Homo sapiens: one gene and its partners. The protein of the gene in region 2 interacts with the protein of the main gene of each other region in a biochemical or structural test. Each region holds a gene or a part of one and is shown on either strand. Other genes may lie near its edges.

Region 1 (7,832 bases), on a different chromosome or scaffold from region 2:
AAAAAGTTAACTGTAAAACAGCACCAAGCAGGCCCTTTCAGGAGGTATCCGAGAAGAAGGCATTATCATCATAGGAGATGACAGGTTTATGCATGTTGGTGCCCCCGAAGACCTTCCGGTGGGAAAAGATGTGGAGGTAGAAGACAGTGATGTTGGTGCTATGGTTAGGCTTTGTGCCGCCACCCAAATCTCATCTTGAATTGTAGTGCCCATAATCCCCACGTGTTGTGGGAGGGAGCCAGTGGGAAGTAACTGAATCATGGGGGTGGTTACCCCCATGCTGTTCTCATGATAGTGAGTTCTCACGAGATCTGATGGTTTTATGAGGGGCTTTAGCCCCTTTGCTCAGCATTTGTCTCTCCTGTTGCCATGTAAAGAAAGACATGTTTGCTTTCCCTGCTGCTATGACTGTAAGTTTCCTGAGGCCTCCCGAGTCACTGTGAGTCAATTAAACCTCTTTCCCTTATCAATTACCCAGGCAGTTCTTCATAGCAGTGTGAGAACGGACTAATACAGTTGGTGATCCTGATCCTGTGTAGGCCTAGGGTAATGTGTGCTTGTGTCTTAGTTTTTAACAAGAAAAGTTTAAAAAGTAAAAAATAAAAATAAAAAAATTAGAAAAAAGCTTATAGAACAAGGATGTAAAGAGAGACAATATTTTTGTACAGCTGTACAATGTGTTTTAGTTTTAAGTTAAATGTTATTACAAAAGAATCCATTTTTTTAAGTTTATAAAGTAAAAGTCAGCTAAGGCTTATTACTGAAGAAAAAGTTTTTTATGAATTTAGTAAAACCTAAGTGTACTGTGTTTATAAAGTCTACAGCAGCGTACAGTAATGTCCTAGGCCTTCACATTCACTCACAACTCACTCACTGAAAGCAACTTCCAGTCCTGCAAGCTCCTTTCATGGCAAGCACTATACCAGTGTACCATTTTAAAAAAATCTCTTATACCTTATTTTTACTGAACCTTTTCTATGTTTACACTTGTTTAGATACACAAATACTTACCATTGTGTTATAATTGTATTCACTACATTTAATATGCTGTACCGGTTTGTAGCCTAGGAGCAATAATAGACTATACTAAGGTTATAGCAATAGTCTTGGCGTGTAGTAGGCTACACCATTTAGATATATGTAAGTTCACTCTACAATGGTCGCACATGACGATATCACCTAACAAGACATTTCTCAGAACATATCCCCATTATTAAGTGATATATAAACTGTATAAGCTTCAATCATCTGACCCTTCTGCAGATCTAATATAATGTGGGCCTCCCGTGCATATGCACGTAATTAAAATGGCTCTCCTCCTGTCACTGTCTAATGTTCATTTATTTTAGATTCAGTTATCAAAACTTCAGAGGGACTTTTCTCTCCCTTTAGTAACCTGCCCAATGCCACAGGGCATGGAAGTGGCAGAACAAGCACTAGCATCTACTGCCATGCAGTCTGACTCAGTTGCTTCCTTAGTCATAAAGCTCTGCCTCAGGTGGTAACAGAAAGCTGCTTAGGTAAATTCATGCAAGCCCTAGAAATTCCTAACCCAGTGAGGCTTCCCTCCGGGCCTGGGCACCTAGAGAGATCCCAGGAGCCCAGGACCAGCCTCTACCTGTAAAGTGAAGAATCTCCGTCCATTGTTTGCAGATGTAGATCTGGACATCCGTGCCCCCAAGAGCCAGGTAGGTACCACTCTGGTCAAAGATCAGTGACTTTACCTGCCAGAAATAGAAAGAGAGAAGGTCACACAAGGGGAACAGAAACTATGGGGCAGTTGCGGATAAGCAGAAGCAATTAGATTAATTCAATAAATAATTGACAAACAAGGAGACACAATGGAAAGCTGGGCGGAGGGGGAAGGGCACACCTCAAAGTTGTTATCCAGCTGCAAAGTCTTAAAGTTCTTAAGCTTGCGCAGATCCCAGAGCTTGACAGAGGAGTCATCAGCCGCTGTAGCCAGGTAGTAACCATTCTCAGAGAAGGCGATGCTAGTGATGGGGCCCGAGTGGCCAGGGAAGTTGGCCACATTAGTACGTTCCTACAGTGGCGGTGGGTAGTAAAATACGTCACCCACAGATCATGAGAGGAAGAAAATGGGGCTCACCAAACTCCTACCTGAGATGTCCCTCACGTCCTTCCAGGAAGGACAGCCAGCGGGACCCCCCAGACCACACCATCATATCACACACGCACAGCCAGTGTCTCTCCACCTTCAGGGCCAGGTGCCACAAGCACCTAATTAGCACTGCATTGTCACAAACACTCCCTCTGGCCCTGGGCCTCAGATGGAGGCCTACCATGTCCTACCTTCAAGTCCCAGATCTTGATCTGAGAGTCCATGGTTCCTGTTCCAAAGATGAGTCCGTCAGGGTGGAACTGTGCACAGGTGAGAGCTGTGGAGGAGGGAAGAGAGACCTGTGGTCAGAGCCCACCAGGGAGAGAGACTAAGAGCAGCAAAGGTAGGTTCCTTGTTCTTCACATTCCTCAGTGAACCCAGCACAAAGCCCGCACTAGACAGGTGCTCATGGTAAATATATCTTTAGAACAAATAAACAAATGACTAAATAAAATGTAAAAATAAATAATAAACAGCAAACAAAAAAGCTGAGTGCCTATGAGGCAACTTACAGCAGCCGGAGGTCTCATCTGTCACCTTGGTGAGCACACGCCCTGTCTGGATGTCAGAGAAAGCCCAGTACTGGGGAAAAAAAAAGAGACAATGGAGTCAGTGAGAAAGTGGGTCCCAGGTTCTGGTGGCCCTTCAGCAAGACAGAGCCCCTGGTTTGGCAAACCCTGGCAAACATTCTCCTTTGAGGTTCTGGGGAACCAGCTGGGGTGGGAAGATGTTCCTGCCACCCAGGATGTTCAAGCTTGGGGACCAGCAGGCCTCTCCAGGGCACTGGCTGGGACCGCACCTGATCATCGGAGGAGCTCAGGAGATAGTCGCCAGTGGCATGAAGGCTGAGGCCTGTCACAGCACTCTCATGGGCCCGAACCACCTGTACACAAGAGGCATTGGGGACCGACCAAATCCTGATAGTGGCATCGGGGGAAGCAGAAAACACCAGGTCCTACAAGGAAAACAAAGACAGAATATCAGAGTCAGAAAAGAGATACAGACCAAAACAATCTTATAAAACGGGGCTGGGGATGCCCACAACTGCCAACAATTGCTTCTCCTTTCAGCTCTGCCCTCCCTGGAACCACCTATCCACCCAATGGTGCCCAAGACAGCCAATGGTAAACGCTATTAAAGTGCTAACTCATACAGCATCAGGGCTTGTGGAGGCGTCCTCGCCATCTAGTGGTAAAAAGGCTAACTGCAACAGAGAGCAATTTTCCCATTTCCAGGACCAAAGGAAAAATGTAGCTAGTACAATTGAGGGACTGAATTTTTTATTCTATTTCATTGAAATTTAAATAGCCACATGCAGCTAACTGCTACTGTACTGTATGGCACAGGTCTGAGCAGTACTGGGACTGGAAGGGGCTGCATGGCTGTATTTCAGTGCATTCCACTTTTATGGATTTCCAGGGTAAGTTAATTTTCCAAAAGATTTGGGGCAGGGAGAGAATTTCGCGTCACTCACCAATTTTTTGTTTAGTTAGGATATTAAAAGCCATAAGGTAAAAATAACTACCATCTTTTTTTATCAATACAATTTCATGAGACCTAACTATTAATACCCCATAAGCAAGAAAACAGTGCTCTCAATTTGAACAAATTTAGTCATGAAAAATTCACCATGTTATTCTTATATTTCTCATTTCCCTAAGGTCCAAGGGAAATCTTGACTGCGAAGCACTAAACCAACCATGTCCTGCAGCCCCAAACCCAAACTGTCTTAGGCTTAAAATTCGAATCCCATAATATCATTAATCTGGTCCCATGAGTTACCTTTACCCTGTAAACCAGAGGTTCTGTTTACAACCTACACCACTTTCAACAGTCAACATGATTTTTACCCATCTTGGAGGATCATGGGAAAGCAGATATATCTGTCCTCCTCGTAAGTGTGAGTTGAGATTGTGTTGAGCTTTGTTTTCTGTAGTTTATATTAGGAACACTATAAGATTTTTTCTTTCCCTAATATGAAATATTTCAATGAATATGCTTGTCAAACTACACATTTCCGTTCTCTCCCTGGCTGGAAGATCACTGCTTTAGAAGGTCTCACGCAGAGTGAAGGGCAATCTCCACAACTCCAAAGTGAGCCCCTCCAAGTGCCCACTCAGGAGTCAGAGTCAGAGCTCTTTCCCAGCCCCACTTCACAGAGACAGCAGCGGGGTGAGGGACAAACAACAGCCAAGGAAAGAAGAACCAAGGGTGGCGAGGAGAACCCCTTACCTGGGAAGGGTGAAACACCACGCTGGTGACCTTCTTGGTATGGCCTTTGAGGGTAGCCAGGATTTGTTCAGAACTTTTGTCAAACACAACGACATTTTTATCCGCCCCACCTGGAGAAGACCCAAAAAGACCAAACAATGAGTCAGGCCCACCCAGGCCCTTTTGCTCAAGGAAATGCTTTTGTTCCCATGCCCATGAAGAGGACAAGGAGCATGCGCCTTCCCTGCTGCCCCTCCCCACTTTGGCCTGCCGGGCTAGGCCCAGACTCTCACCAGTGAGGATCTTGTTGGTGTCGGACGGGCAGAGGTCCAGGGCCAGGATCCCAGGAATGCTGGCACTGTGCAACCCCTTTGCAGAGAGACACACCAAACCCTGTCACGGCCAAATCACAGCAGGCCACAAAGCCACAGACCTCCCCTACTGCCATCTCCAGTCACCCATGTTCTCAGGGGAGCAAGAGTTACTTCTATTCCTTATCCATACCTCTTGGCTATCTGCCTGGTACGGTAACTCCCTCACTGCATCACTAGGAAACCCACAGCTGGGCAGAAAGAGGAGCCCTGACAACTCAGCAGCCCAGGCGAGAAACAGCACCAGGAACAGCGCCAGGAACCTGGGACAGCTCTGCACTCAGCACTCCCCATGCTGGCCCGCCCACCCCAGAAACAAAACGGGAGGGCTGTCTCCAAGACAGTGGAGACCCAGACACTCACCACGTGGGATGCCACCTGCCGGTATTTGCTGAGCTCTTCTGGCTTCACCAGCTCCTCAGGCACAGTCTTCCCTCTCTGAGAAAATGAAAAGCCCCCAAAGAAGAGCAGCAATGAATCCAAGATTCAGCCGCCCTCTCTCTCCTAAGGAGTCAACCGCCTCCCACCAGGCCAGCTCTTTCTCCAGGCTTCAGAAAGAGAACTCACCTTCTTGCGCTCCGTGGTTAGCACAGTGGCTTTGTCTTGAAGCTGGGGAAGAACAGGCTCAATGTGAGACAAATCATCTTGCAAGGAGAAAAGTACATTAGATGCTGGTCACACCTGTGCTTTCAAAAGCAGCACCAAGAACTTGCTATCTGCCAACTTCTACGTTACAGGCTTAAAGGCATTCTCTCTTCTTACTTCCATCCCAGCTTTATGAGGGGGGTGTTGATGACCTTATTTTACAGCTGAGGAAACTGAGCCTCAGAGAAGTGAAGTCAATTGCCCAAGGTCGCAGAGGTGATAAACAGCAGAGCAAGAATAGAAGCTAGGACTGTAGAGCTCCCATAGGTCTACACGCCACTAAGCCAAGGGCTCAGACACATGCTGACAATTTGAACTGCTCAGAAAGACACTAAGAAGCCCTGCAAATGAGAATCCCACTGGACTTGCAATCAGGAAGCCCAGCTCTGCCTCTCAGATGTGTCTTTCATCTGCAAAATAAGGATTATAATTCCTATCCTATTGCCCTCATAGAAAAAAAACAAGAAAATATATAAAAGTAGTTTACTATCTGCAAAGAATCTCAATAACAATAAGAGCTAAAAGGTGCACTTATCAGTAATGAAATCTTTTAAATTCCCACAGCCTGCCTATACAGTGGATATGATCATATTCTCAGTTTAGAAGCTAGGGAAATGAGACACGTAAGGGTTGGCTAAGTAAGCCAAGGTCATAAAGCTTACAAGTAGTGGCATCAAAATACAAACCCAGGCAATCTGGTCCCAGGGTCCATGCTCTGCACCACTCAACTCCCAAAAGCACAGTGATTTTAGTCACGATGGACTCCAGACAGATGGTGAAAAGTAAGGGCCCATCAGCACTCCCACCAGGTGAGAGCAGGACTTACCTTCTGAATAATCTCTGGGGTCATTCCCACCAGCTCACCCAAATCCATTGGCTCACCCGCACCCTGAAGAGAAGAAAGGTGAGGGTGAGAGGCACAGAGCACCAAAGACACCTGCATAAGGACAGTTCTGTGGGCCACTGTACACAAATGGGCTGCTGGTAAGGGAAGGGGGACACTTACCACAACACTTGGTTGGGAACTTGGCACAGCCTGGGGCACAATGAGGCCAGCCTGTGGTTTCAGGGTAGCCAGAGCTGAGAGAAAAGACGATGTTAGAAATGGGATATTACAATGCAGAACCAGCCCAGGGTGGGGGATGGCAGGGGAGAGGCTGCACCTTCTCGGGCAGCAGTGACTTCCTTGGTGAGACGGGCAATGACACGGCAGGCGGCATCGTGCTGGTACAGAGCGTGTGACAGCTCTTGGCGGGTTGTCTGCAGCTGCTGGCGCAGAGTGAAGCTGTGCAGCATGACTGCATCCTGGGAGAAGCAAATATCATTGTAAGGTGAGGTGGGGGGTGCAGGGAGTACCCAGTGGAGTCAGCCCTTGGGGAGGGGATGCTGCCTCCTATCCCAGAGCCTAGACCAGTATCAGTGACCCAAACAATATCCGAGCAAACACGAATGTGCCGGCAGACACTCTTGAGCTCCTACCCCAAGCGAACCACTGGGCACACAGACAGGAGTGGGAGCCAGCTCTTTCCCATCCCCACCTTCCCTAACTTACTGGCAAATCCCAGCTGTCATGCCGTCCCCTCTCTAAAAGAGAATAACAACACTGCTGCTGCTGCTATTTATTGATCGCCCTCGTTGTGTCAGGCACTGTGCCAGACAGTCCTGCAGGATGTATTCAATCATTCAATTCATAACTCTAGAGCACCTACTATGTACCAGGTGCTGCTCTCAGTGCTGGGGATACAACGAAGAATAAAACAAATCCCTGATGTCACAAAGTTTACCCTCTAAATAATGCTCCATCCTTCCTACCCCCAAGTCCTAACCCAGCAATGCATTCTCTTCAAGTGGGGAAGATGCTGATTCTCTTGCAGGAACTCACCCACTCATCCTGCAAAGCTTTCAGAATGGCCGGGATGCTGGTGGCTGAGGGAGGCTTGGGCCGGATTGGGTGAGCAACTGCCGAAAGGGAAAGCAGGTATGAAGAACATAACCCAGGGGCCTCCCCCGCCATCACATCTTTTCCTTTTAGCCATAAACAGCCCACCATCTCTTCCTCCAGTGCACTGGCACCACCTCCCATCCTCTCAGGCTCTGAGCTAAGATGGCCCTAGACTAAGGCAGCCAATAGGCACCTTTGATGTCGATGAGCTGCTCCTCGGAGAGAGGCTGGTTGTTGATGGGGTCGGTACCATTCTCCGCAATGTACTTCTCGATGAGCCGCCGCTCATAAACATGATTAGAGACAGGGGATACACATGGGTGCTCCGGCACTTCGTTAGAGACTGTAGAGAAAAGGCTGGTAGTGAGCTTGGAGTGAAGGCAATCTTGGGCCTAGAGGATTCCTCATCTGCTATTAGCCCCAACAAGACTAGGCATCCTCACACTCAACTAGCAGAAAGCAAGACATTTGACCCTAAGCCAGTTCTGTACTGGCCCCAGAATGCTTTCCAGCTATGGAACTACCTTTTCCTTTAGTCTCC
Region 2 (6,618 bases):
GAGATGGGGTTTCACTGTGTCAGCCAGGATGGTCTTGATCTCCTGACCTCGTAATCCGCCCTCCTCAGCCTCCCAAAGTGCTGGGATTACAGGCGTGAGCCACTGTACCTGGCCATCATCAGGCTAATTTTTTATCTGCTAATATGTGTAATTGAAAAGCTTCTCCTCCTGCCATCACAAAAAAAATTACCTTTTTTTGGAGGGAGGAGGGAGTGTTTGTAATTTTCCCAGAAACTACCATTATTCTACCATAGCCAATGTTGAATTTAGGAAATGGTTCAAGCTACCATTTGGGTAGCTTGATGGGAGAATAACTGGTTAATTTAAATTTATTTCAATGTATTCATAATTCATGCTTTTTTTTTTCTGAGCTTCCACAATTATATGACAAGCATTTCATTTCAACCTTTTTGCTAACATTTACTTAATTTGAGATTAATTACGGCCGGGTGCGGTGGTTCACTCCTATAATCCAAGCACTTTGGGAGGCAGAGGCGGGCAAATCACCTGAGGTCAGGAGTTTCAAGACCAGCCTGGCCAACATGGCAAAACCTCGTCTCTACTAAAAATACAAAAATTAGCCGGGCGTGGTGGTATACACCTTTAATCCCAGAAGCACTGTCTGTGTCTTGGATGGTAGCGAGACAAGATGGTGGATCCCCAGACTCAGGGCTTGTATACATAGGGAAGGGGCATACATGCTTCAGAAGGGATGTGCAGAACAATTGCTTAGGGTCGGGATTTATGGTAAGTACGAGAACATACTCAGGAGGCTGAGACAGGAGAATCACTTGAACCCAGGAGGTGGAGGCTGCAGTGAGCCGAGATGGCACCACTGCATTCCAGCCTGGGTAACAGATCAAGACTCCGTCTCAAAAAAAAAAAAAAAAAAAACAATTACAAGATGAGTTGATGGATGGAAATTTCATTTTAGATTGTTGGATGTGTGTGTGTGTGTGGTAATCAATGTAGAACTCACTGTGATCATCACAATTTTTTTTGAGACACAGTCTCCCTCTATCACCCAGGGTGAAGTGCAGTGGTGCGATCTCAACTCACTGCAACCTGCACATCCCGGGTTCAAGTGATTCTCTTGCCTCAGCCTCTAGAGTAGTTGGGATTACAGGCACACACCACCACGTCTGGCCAATTTTTGAATTTTTAGTAGAGATGGGGTTTCACCATGTTGGCCAGCCTGGTCTTGAACTCCTTACCTCAGGTGATCCGCCCACCTAGGCCTCCCAAAGTGGTGGGATTACAGGTGTGAGCCACCGTGCCTAGCCTGATCATCACAATATTTTGTGTAAAAGTCAGTCCTCATGACTTTTTGCGTCTGTGTGTTATTTTTTAAGGATCTTAAGGAGCCTACGTGGAAGCAGTGGAGAGAGTTCCTGGTCAAATACTCCTTCCTTCCATACCAGCTGATTGCTGAGTTTGCTTGGGACTGGTTGGAGGTCCATTACTGGACATCACGGTTTCTCATCATCAATGCTATGTTACTCTCAGTTCTGGAATTATTCTCCTTTTGGAGAATCTGGTCGAGAAGTGAACTGAAGTAAGTATGTTTTAATGGTTGTCACAACAGGGGATGGGAAAGAAATACCAAGTGAGAGAAAGATCCTCTTTTATTTCTCACACTTGAAATAAATCCTCCATCCACCCAGACCCTTCAGACTCTGCTTTGAGAAACCTAGCTTAAGCAGTGAATAGGACAATTACCTGTGTTTTGGGGGTGGGGGTTGTGGTGCTCATTGTTAAAAGTATTTTCCTATATGTCTTATCTCTATGCAATAATATACCATTTAATTTCAGGGGGAGGGGGGCAAAGGATTGTAATAATCAAGGAATAAGCAACTGAATAGAAAAGGGTCTGTTTTAAGGTAGGCAGGCCTGTGCAAACCTATCCCCTAAATCAGAGGAAGCTGAGGGGCTGAAGGAAGAAGCTGGCAAATTCAGTTTCTCAGAAAGAAACACTTAATAAGGCCTTGCCAACAGAAGCCCTGTCTGTGTCTTGGATGGTAGCGAGACAAGATGGTGGATCCCCAGACTCAGGGCTTGTATACATAGGGAAGGGGCATACATGCTTCAGAAGGGATGTGCAGAACAATTGCTTAGGGTCGGGATCTATGGTAAGTAAGAGAACATCAAGGCTGTTTCACCAAAGGGCAGGATTTACGTGATGTACGTGCTCTTACACAAGAAACATTAGATAAAACCAGAGATCTTAGAGGCTTCCCCCAAACCGGAGTTAGTGAGAAGTCAATATGGCAGATTAGCATCCAATATAGAGTTGCTTTGGCCTCCACAGGGTGCTTTATAGAAAATGCAGTAAGGTAGAGCATAAAGAGATCTCATGGGAAATTCTGTAGGCATGAGTTCTAATCCTGATCTGTAACCAACTAGGATAATAATAACTTAGGCTTCAAGCATGACTGGACCCTGAGACCCAAACGCTGTCACCAGTACTGACTCTTTCTCTGTCCCTCACAGCACTGTTCTTTCTTGTGTTTTCTGCCTCAGGCATCTCTCTTCATGTGGGGGCCCTTGTCTTCTCCACTCCAGACTTTGATCTGTGCAGCTTAACAAACCTCCAGAAAGAAAGCACTTCCTTCCCTGTGGCACTGGAAAAGGTCTCAGGGCTCACATGCCTTTGTTCTGATGGACCCAGGCTTGAGGCATGAGTTCACCCCACAACCAGAGGCTGGTTTCAGCCCTACCCAGACCACATGGAAAAGAACAAAGGAGAGAGAATCCCCAAAACTTAGAGGCTGTTGCCAGGTGCAGTGGTTCATGCCTGTAATCCTAGAACTTTGGGAGGCCAAGGCAGGTGGATCACCTGAGGTCAGGAGTTCGAGACCAGCCTGGCCAACATAGTGAAACCTCATCTCTACCAAAAATACAAAAATTAGCCAGGCGTGGCGGTGGGTGCCTGTAATCCCAGCTACTCGGGAGGCTGAGGCAGGAGGATCGCTTGAACTCAGAGAGGTGGAGGTTGCAGTGAGCTAAGATTGCACCATTGCACTCCACCCTGGGCGACAAAACGAGAGTCCATCTCAAAAAACCCCCAAAAACTTAGAAGCTATTTCCAGAAGAAAGGGACAGGCAGAAGTAACACTGCCACCCTTGCAGCCTTTTACCTTGACATTCTGACTCGCAGCCTTATGAATGGTTCTGAGAACCTAACAATCTCCCTCACCTTTCCAATGGTGACTCACTAGGTAAAAATAAAAAAAGAATCTCCCTCATTTCTTTCCATTTAGCAAACTCACTTATTTATATACAATATGCATATTTATGCCCCTACTGTACTCCTGGTTCTCTCCTGGGCATGGCAGATCTTTTGGTAAAGAAGACAGTCTATAGTGTGAGGCCCTACAGCCTAGCAAAGAAAATATGTACGTTAAAAAATAGATGGTCAGGCACCTTGGCTCATGCCTGTAATCCCAGCACTTTGGGAGGTGAGAGGATTGCTTGAGACCAGGAGTTCAAGTGCAGCCTGGGCAACGTGGCAAAACCTGTCTCTAAAAATACAAAAAATTAACTGGGCGTGGTGGTGCACACCTGTAGTCCCAGCTACTCGGGAGGTTGAGGTGGAGGATCACCTGAGCCGAGGAGTTTGAGACCAGCCTGGGTAACATAGCGAGACCTTGTCCCTACTTAAAATAATAATAATAATAATAATAATAATTAGCCAGATGTGGTGATGTGTGCCTGTGGTCCCAGCTACTCAGGAGGATCACTTGAGACCTGGAGGTCAAGGCTGCAGTTGAGCCACATTTGCACCACTGCACTCCCAGGCTGGACAAAGGAATGAGACCCTGTCTCAAAAGGAAAAAAAAATATGTAAATGTAACAAAGTGATGAAGCAGGTGAAGTTGAGGCTGTCACAGGGAGGCCTTGCCCAGTGTGGGGGCAAAGAAGCTCCCTGTAGGTCATGTCCTTGAGAGTTAAAAGATGGGTTGAGTAGGCAGAGGTCTCAGGCACCGGGGACAGAAGACAAGGACATTCAGCACGGGCAGCCATGCTCTTCCCAGCACCCAGAAAAGGCCCAGGGCCCGGACTCCTGGGTGTGGTCATGAGAAGCGCCTCCGATTCAGCCTCTTCTCTTCTTGTTTCAGGACCGTGCCTCAGAGGATGTGGAGCCATTTCTGGAAAGTATCAACGCAGGGGCTTTTTGTGGCCATGTTCTGGCCCCTCATCCCTCAGTTTGTTTGCAACTGTTTGTTTTACTGGGCCCTGTACTTTAACCCAATTATTAACATTGATCTTGTGGTCAAGGAACTCCGGCGGCTGGAAACCCAGGTGTTGTGACTGGCACTGCCCAGGCTGAGACTCTTCAAGTCCCGCTGACGTCTGAGCTTTGATGCTTAAGAGGGGTGAGGCAGGGAGCGGACTTCCTATTTTCTACCCTCAGTAAAACAAGGTGCTGCTTTGTATATCAAAAGCTCCAACCATGTCCTCTCCCCCTCAGCCTGTGGGTGGCACGAGCAAGGACTGACATCCGCACAGGGAGGATTGTCTGTTTGGCTGACACAGCAGCAGCCCTTCCCACCCAGCCACCTTCCTCACAGGGACTAGGAGGCTCAGTCCCCAACGGCTGGCAAGACTCAGGGTCCTCAGTGGACATGGTGTGGGTGACATCAGAAGGGTGCCACATCAGTCCCCTCCCCAACCTCAGTGACTGACAGAGGATCCGGATCTCAGAGCCTGAGACCAGGTTTATTGGGGCCTGGCCTGTCCTCTAAGTCAAGTTTAGGAAAACAAGGATAAGATTCTGTCATAGGCATAGAGAGTTGCACATAAAAAATACCGAAGAAAACCCAAAATTCAATCAACAATTCTGTCTTATTGAAGAGTTGCTAGGATTCAGAGTAAAACTCAAAGGATTCAGTTTGAGCCTAGAATGATGGTTAGACTTGTAGTCACTGGGCTTTTGTTTTGCTTTATGGAAATCATTGAAGGTCTGGATCCCTTTCTCTGAATGGAGAGATTGAGAGGGATGTCGGGCAGTTCCCATTAGATTTAGTGGCCTTCATGTTATTCAGAATTGTTTTGGTGATACCTCACCCCTGTAATCCCAGCACTTTGGGTGGGTGAGGCAGGCGGATCACTTGAAGCCAGGACTTCAAGACCAGCTTGGCCAACATGGTGAAACCTCATCTCTACTAAAAATACAAAAATTAGCCAAGTGTGATGGCACATACCTGTAATCCCAGCTACTTGGAATTGGAAATCGCCTGAACCCAGGAGGCGGAGGTTGCAGGGAGGGAGACTGCACCACTGCACTTCAGCCTGGGTGACAGAGGGAGACTCTGTCTTAAAAAAAAAAAAAAAATCATCTGTAAAATAAATTCCGGGATAGTCGTTTTGTTCAAGGAAATGTTTTGTAAATTGAGCTCACACTATATAATCTTTATTGTCCTATCCTGATGTATAATACAGCAGGTATAATTACACCAAGCGCTATAGTTATAAATATGGCATGAAGTGAACTATGGCCTTTTATTTCCTTCCAGTGTGAACACAGCAGGTGTGAGATGTCATCTTGGAAGACAGGCCTTGCAGAAATAGGCCTACATCCAAAATATTATCTTGTGACTCCATGAACCATTCATTAACCCTTTGTATCTTTGAGTGAAAATTTTACTCAAAAGTTGCATCTGGAAGTTCGAAGAAATTACTTGAAATAAAAATAAAGATTTCTATATAGATAAAACCTATATGTAGAGAAAAAGCAATTGTCTAGAAAACACAAAACTTCTGCATTGCCGGATAGAATCTTCTAGCCATGGGCCGAGCGTGGTGGTTCGCGCCTGTAATCCCGGCACTTTGGGAGGCCAAGGTGGATGGATCACTTGAGGTCAGGAGTTCAAGACCAGCCTGACGAACATGGTGAAACCCCGTCTCTACTGAAAATACAAAAATTAGCCAGGCACGGTGGTGCGCACCTGTAGTCCCAGCTACTTGGGAGGCTGAGGCAGGAGAATCACTTGAACCCAGGAGGCAGAAGTTGCATTGAGCCAAGATCATGCCACTGCACTCCATCTGGGTGACTGAGCAAGATTCCGTCTCAAAAAAAAAAAAGTCATCTAGTCAGTCTAGTCATGCTTAAATCCCCCAGCCTGACGCAGATACTGAGCCGAGGAGCCACCCTAAGGGAAAATGGGTTTTTTCCTGCTCGTGTTTGCACATCAAGCCCCAGGGTTGCTTGACTTTACCTATTTAATGCTTGTGACCTCCCATGGACACTCACATGGCAGTGTTTGCATATCCCTGGTCTCATGCCACCCAGGGGTTGCCAGTATCCTTTACAGGTGAATAGATGGAGGATGGCTGGCAAAACACCAAGTTGGCGCTGGCTGGCTTTGGCAGAGCTGGGCCTGGGCCATCCACCTCCACCCCATGGCCTCTCACATTGTCGCCACCTGCTCCCACACCCTGCTTCAAAGATGAGTAATACCCAGATTTGCTCAGGGACTGGGGCAAAGCCATGGCGTAGAGCAAACAGGCTGGGCAGGACCTTACTCCTTATCACCAGCAGGAGGGACGGGCACACTCAGATCAGGGGCCACAGGCTGCCTCTACCTCTTCTTACCAATCATAGCAGGATGGGTACAT
Region 3 (3,216 bases), on a different chromosome or scaffold from region 2:
CCCCTGGGGGCTAATTATTGCCCAAAGTAGCTGCAATTAGCCTCTTGCCCTGGACTTCTGGGGAACAAGTAGTTAAGTGTGTACCCTAATTAGTGGCCCATAGCCCAGCTCCGGGACACTTGCTGTAGTTGTCTAGAACTGAGAAGCCCTATCTCCTCCTCTGCCATGATTAATTGCTGGGGGGGAAGAGAGGAGGGATGGGGATAGGGATTGGGCTGGAGTGACAGGAGGAAGGGACAACGAGTCCCCCCAGGTGCCTTCACTTCCTGGTGCCCCACCCAGGACCTTGTCTTGGCCCCAGGCCTCCAGATGGGGAGGAGCACTGCCTCGGCCCTTCTTGGGTCTCACCCCAGTGCCCACTGTTGGGGAAAGGAGTTCAGGGGTAGGACCTGACTCTCCTCTGGTTTCTCTGCAGCCCTCAAGGGTGACGGAGGCCTCTACAGCAGCCTGCCCCCAGCCAAGCGGGAGGAGGTGGAGAAGCTTCTCAACGGCTCTGCGGGGGACACCTGGCGGCACCTGGCGGGCGAGCTGGGCTACCAGCCCGAGCACATAGACTCCTTTACCCATGAGGCCTGCCCCGTTCGCGCCCTGCTTGCAAGCTGGGCCACCCAGGACAGCGCCACACTGGACGCCCTCCTGGCCGCCCTGCGCCGCATCCAGCGAGCCGACCTCGTGGAGAGTCTGTGCAGTGAGTCCACTGCCACATCCCCGGTGTGAGCCCAACCGGGGAGCCCCCGCCCCGCCCCACATTCCGACAACCGATGCTCCAGCCAACCCCTGTGGAGCCCGCACCCCCACCCTTTGGGGGGGGCCCGCCTGGCAGAACTGAGCTCCTCTGGGCAGGACCTCAGAGTCCAGGCCCCAAAACCACAGCCCTGTCAGTGCAGCCCGTGTGGCCCCTTCACTTCTGACCACACTTCCTGTCCAGAGAGAGAAGTGCCCCTGCTGCCTCCCCAACCCTGCCCCTGCCCCGTCACCATCTCAGGCCACCTGCCCCCTTCTCCCACACTGCTAGGTGGGCCAGCCCCTCCCACCACAGCAGGTGTCATATATGGGGGGCCAACACCAGGGATGGTACTAGGGGGAAGTGACAAGGCCCCAGAGACTCAGAGGGAGGAATCGAGGAACCAGAGCCATGGACTCTACACTGTGAACTTGGGGAACAAGGGTGGCATCCCAGTGGCCTCAACCCTCCCTCAGCCCCTCTTGCCCCCCACCCCAGCCTAAGATGAAGAGGATCGGAGGCTTGTCAGAGCTGGGAGGGGTTTTCGAAGCTCAGCCCACCCCCCTCATTTTGGATATAGGTCAGTGAGGCCCAGGGAGAGGCCATGATTCGCCCAAAGCCAGACAGCAACGGGGAGGCCAAGTGCAGGCTGGCACCGCCTTCTCTAAATGAGGGGCCTCAGGTTTGCCTGAGGGCGAGGGGAGGGTGGCAGGTGACCTTCTGGGAAATGGCTTGAAGCCAAGTCAGCTTTGCCTTCCACGCTGTCTCCAGACCCCCACCCCTTCCCCACTGCCTGCCCACCCGTGGAGATGGGATGCTTGCCTAGGGCCTGGTCCATGATGGAGTCAGGTTTGGGGTTCGTGGAAAGGGTGCTGCTTCCCTCTGCCTGTCCCTCTCAGGCATGCCTGTGTGACATCAGTGGCATGGCTCCAGTCTGCTGCCCTCCATCCCGACATGGACCCGGAGCTAACACTGGCCCCTAGAATCAGCCTAGGGGTCAGGGACCAAGGACCCCTCACCTTGCAACACACAGACACACGCACACACACACACAGGAGGAGAAATCTCACTTTTCTCCATGAGTTTTTTCTCTTGGGCTGAGACTGGATACTGCCCGGGGCAGCTGCCAGAGAAGCATCGGAGGGAATTGAGGTCTGCTCGGCCGTCTTCACTCGCCCCCGGGTTTGGCGGGCCAAGGACTGCCGACCGAGGCTGGAGCTGGCGTCTGTCTTCAAGGGCTTACACGTGGAGGAATGCTCCCCCATCCTCCCCTTCCCTGCAAACATGGGGTTGGCTGGGCCCAGAAGGTTGTGATGAAGAAAAGTGGGCCAGTGTGGGAATGCGGCAAGAAGGAATTGACTTCGACTGTGACCTGTGGGGATTTCTCCCAGCTCTAGACAACCCTGCAAAGGACTGTTTTTTCCTGAGCTTGGCCAGAAGGGGGCCATGAGGCCTCAGTGGACTTTCCACCCCCTCCCTGGCCTGTTCTGTTTTGCCTGAAGTTGGAGTGAGTGTGGCTCCCCTCTATTTAGCATGACAAGCCCCAGGCAGGCTGTGCGCTGACAACCACCGCTCCCCAGCCCAGGGTTCCCCCAGCCCTGTGGAAGGGACTAGGAGCACTGTAGTAAATGGCAATTCTTTGACCTCAACCTGTGATGAGGGGAGGAAACTCACCTGCTGGCCCCTCACCTGGGCACCTGGGGAGTGGGACAGAGTCTGGGTGTATTTATTTTCCTCCCCAGCAGGTGGGGAGGGGGTTTGGGGGCTTGCAAGTATGTTTTAGCATGTGTTTGGTTCTGGGGCCCCTTTTTACTCCCCTTGAGCTGAGATGGAACCCTTTTGGCCCCCGAGCTGGGGGCCATGAGCTCCAGACCCCCAGCAACCCTCCTATCACCTCCCCTCCTTGCCTCCTGTGTAATCATTTCTTGGGCCCTCCTGAAACTTACACACAAAACGTTAAGTGATGAACATTAAATAGCAAAGAAAGAAAAATAGTACAAAGAGATTTTCTGGAAATACACATGGTTTGAATTGTTTGGGATTGGGTGTGTGGCAGGGACCCAGGTATAATTTCCAATTCGGTCAATTCCTGCCCTCTTTTCCCCCACACCAAAAGGGGAAGTTTTAACAGAAATCCAGTAAGTTCCCATGTATCACTATGGGGTGAGGTGGGGAAGGAGAAGGGGCCCTTTGCTCCCAGATCTTGGAGAGGGAAAGTGAAAATGGCCACGCAGGAAGCTAGCCAGCTGTGAACTTGACCAGATGTCAGAAGTGAAACTGACCACAGGCAAGTCAGAGGCTCGCCAGGAGGGCCAGGTCACAACCCCACAGCTCCCAGCCACCCACGTGGCCTGGGAGACACACACACACACATACACACCACAGAGAGAGAGAGAGAGAATCTGGCTCCAGATGGCCTAGCAGGAGGCATTCGGCAGGCCTGGCCTGGAGTTAGGCAGGCAGGCCCCTCCCTTGTAGCTCTCGTGGGCAGG

What was found.
Region 1: the proteins of BFAR (region 2) and PRPF19 form a complex in vitro, tested with the Homo sapiens proteins (one study listed by BioGRID).
Region 3: the proteins of BFAR (region 2) and NGFR form a complex in vitro, tested with the Homo sapiens proteins (one study listed by BioGRID).

What each region holds. Positions count from the first base shown.
Region 1 is NC_000011.10:60,896,228-60,904,059, forward strand, and holds part of PRPF19 (pre-mRNA-processing factor 19), read right to left. Parts: intron 7,635-7,832; coding exon 7,485-7,634; intron 7,309-7,484; coding exon 7,232-7,308; intron 6,655-7,231; coding exon 6,513-6,654; intron 6,430-6,512; coding exon 6,356-6,429; intron 6,239-6,355; coding exon 6,176-6,238; intron 5,314-6,175; coding exon 5,272-5,313; intron 5,143-5,271; coding exon 5,068-5,142; intron 4,703-5,067; coding exon 4,627-4,702; intron 4,465-4,626; coding exon 4,355-4,464; intron 3,078-4,354; coding exon 2,922-3,077; intron 2,705-2,921; coding exon 2,635-2,704; intron 2,400-2,634; coding exon 2,314-2,399; intron 2,045-2,313; coding exon 1,874-2,044; intron 1,725-1,873; coding exon 1,619-1,724; intron 1-1,618. UniProt on the Homo sapiens protein: Ubiquitin-protein ligase which is a core component of several complexes mainly involved pre-mRNA splicing and DNA repair. Required for pre-mRNA splicing as component of the spliceosome.
Region 2 is NC_000016.10:14,663,517-14,670,134, forward strand, and holds the end of BFAR (bifunctional apoptosis regulator), read left to right. Parts: intron 1-1,352; coding exon 1,353-1,555; intron 1,556-4,118; coding exon 4,119-4,311; 3' UTR 4,312-5,720; downstream 5,721-6,618. UniProt on the Homo sapiens protein: Membrane-bound E3 ubiquitin ligase that plays a role in several processes including apoptosis regulation or reticulum endoplasmic stress. Has anti-apoptotic activity, both for apoptosis triggered via death-receptors and via mitochondrial factors.
Region 3 is NC_000017.11:49,512,293-49,515,508, forward strand, and holds the end of NGFR (tumor necrosis factor receptor superfamily member 16 precursor), read left to right. Parts: intron 1-415; coding exon 416-717; 3' UTR 718-2,716; downstream 2,717-3,216. UniProt on the Homo sapiens protein: Low affinity receptor which can bind to NGF, BDNF, NTF3, and NTF4. Forms a heterodimeric receptor with SORCS2 that binds the precursor forms of NGF, BDNF and NTF3 with high affinity, and has much lower affinity for mature NGF and BDNF.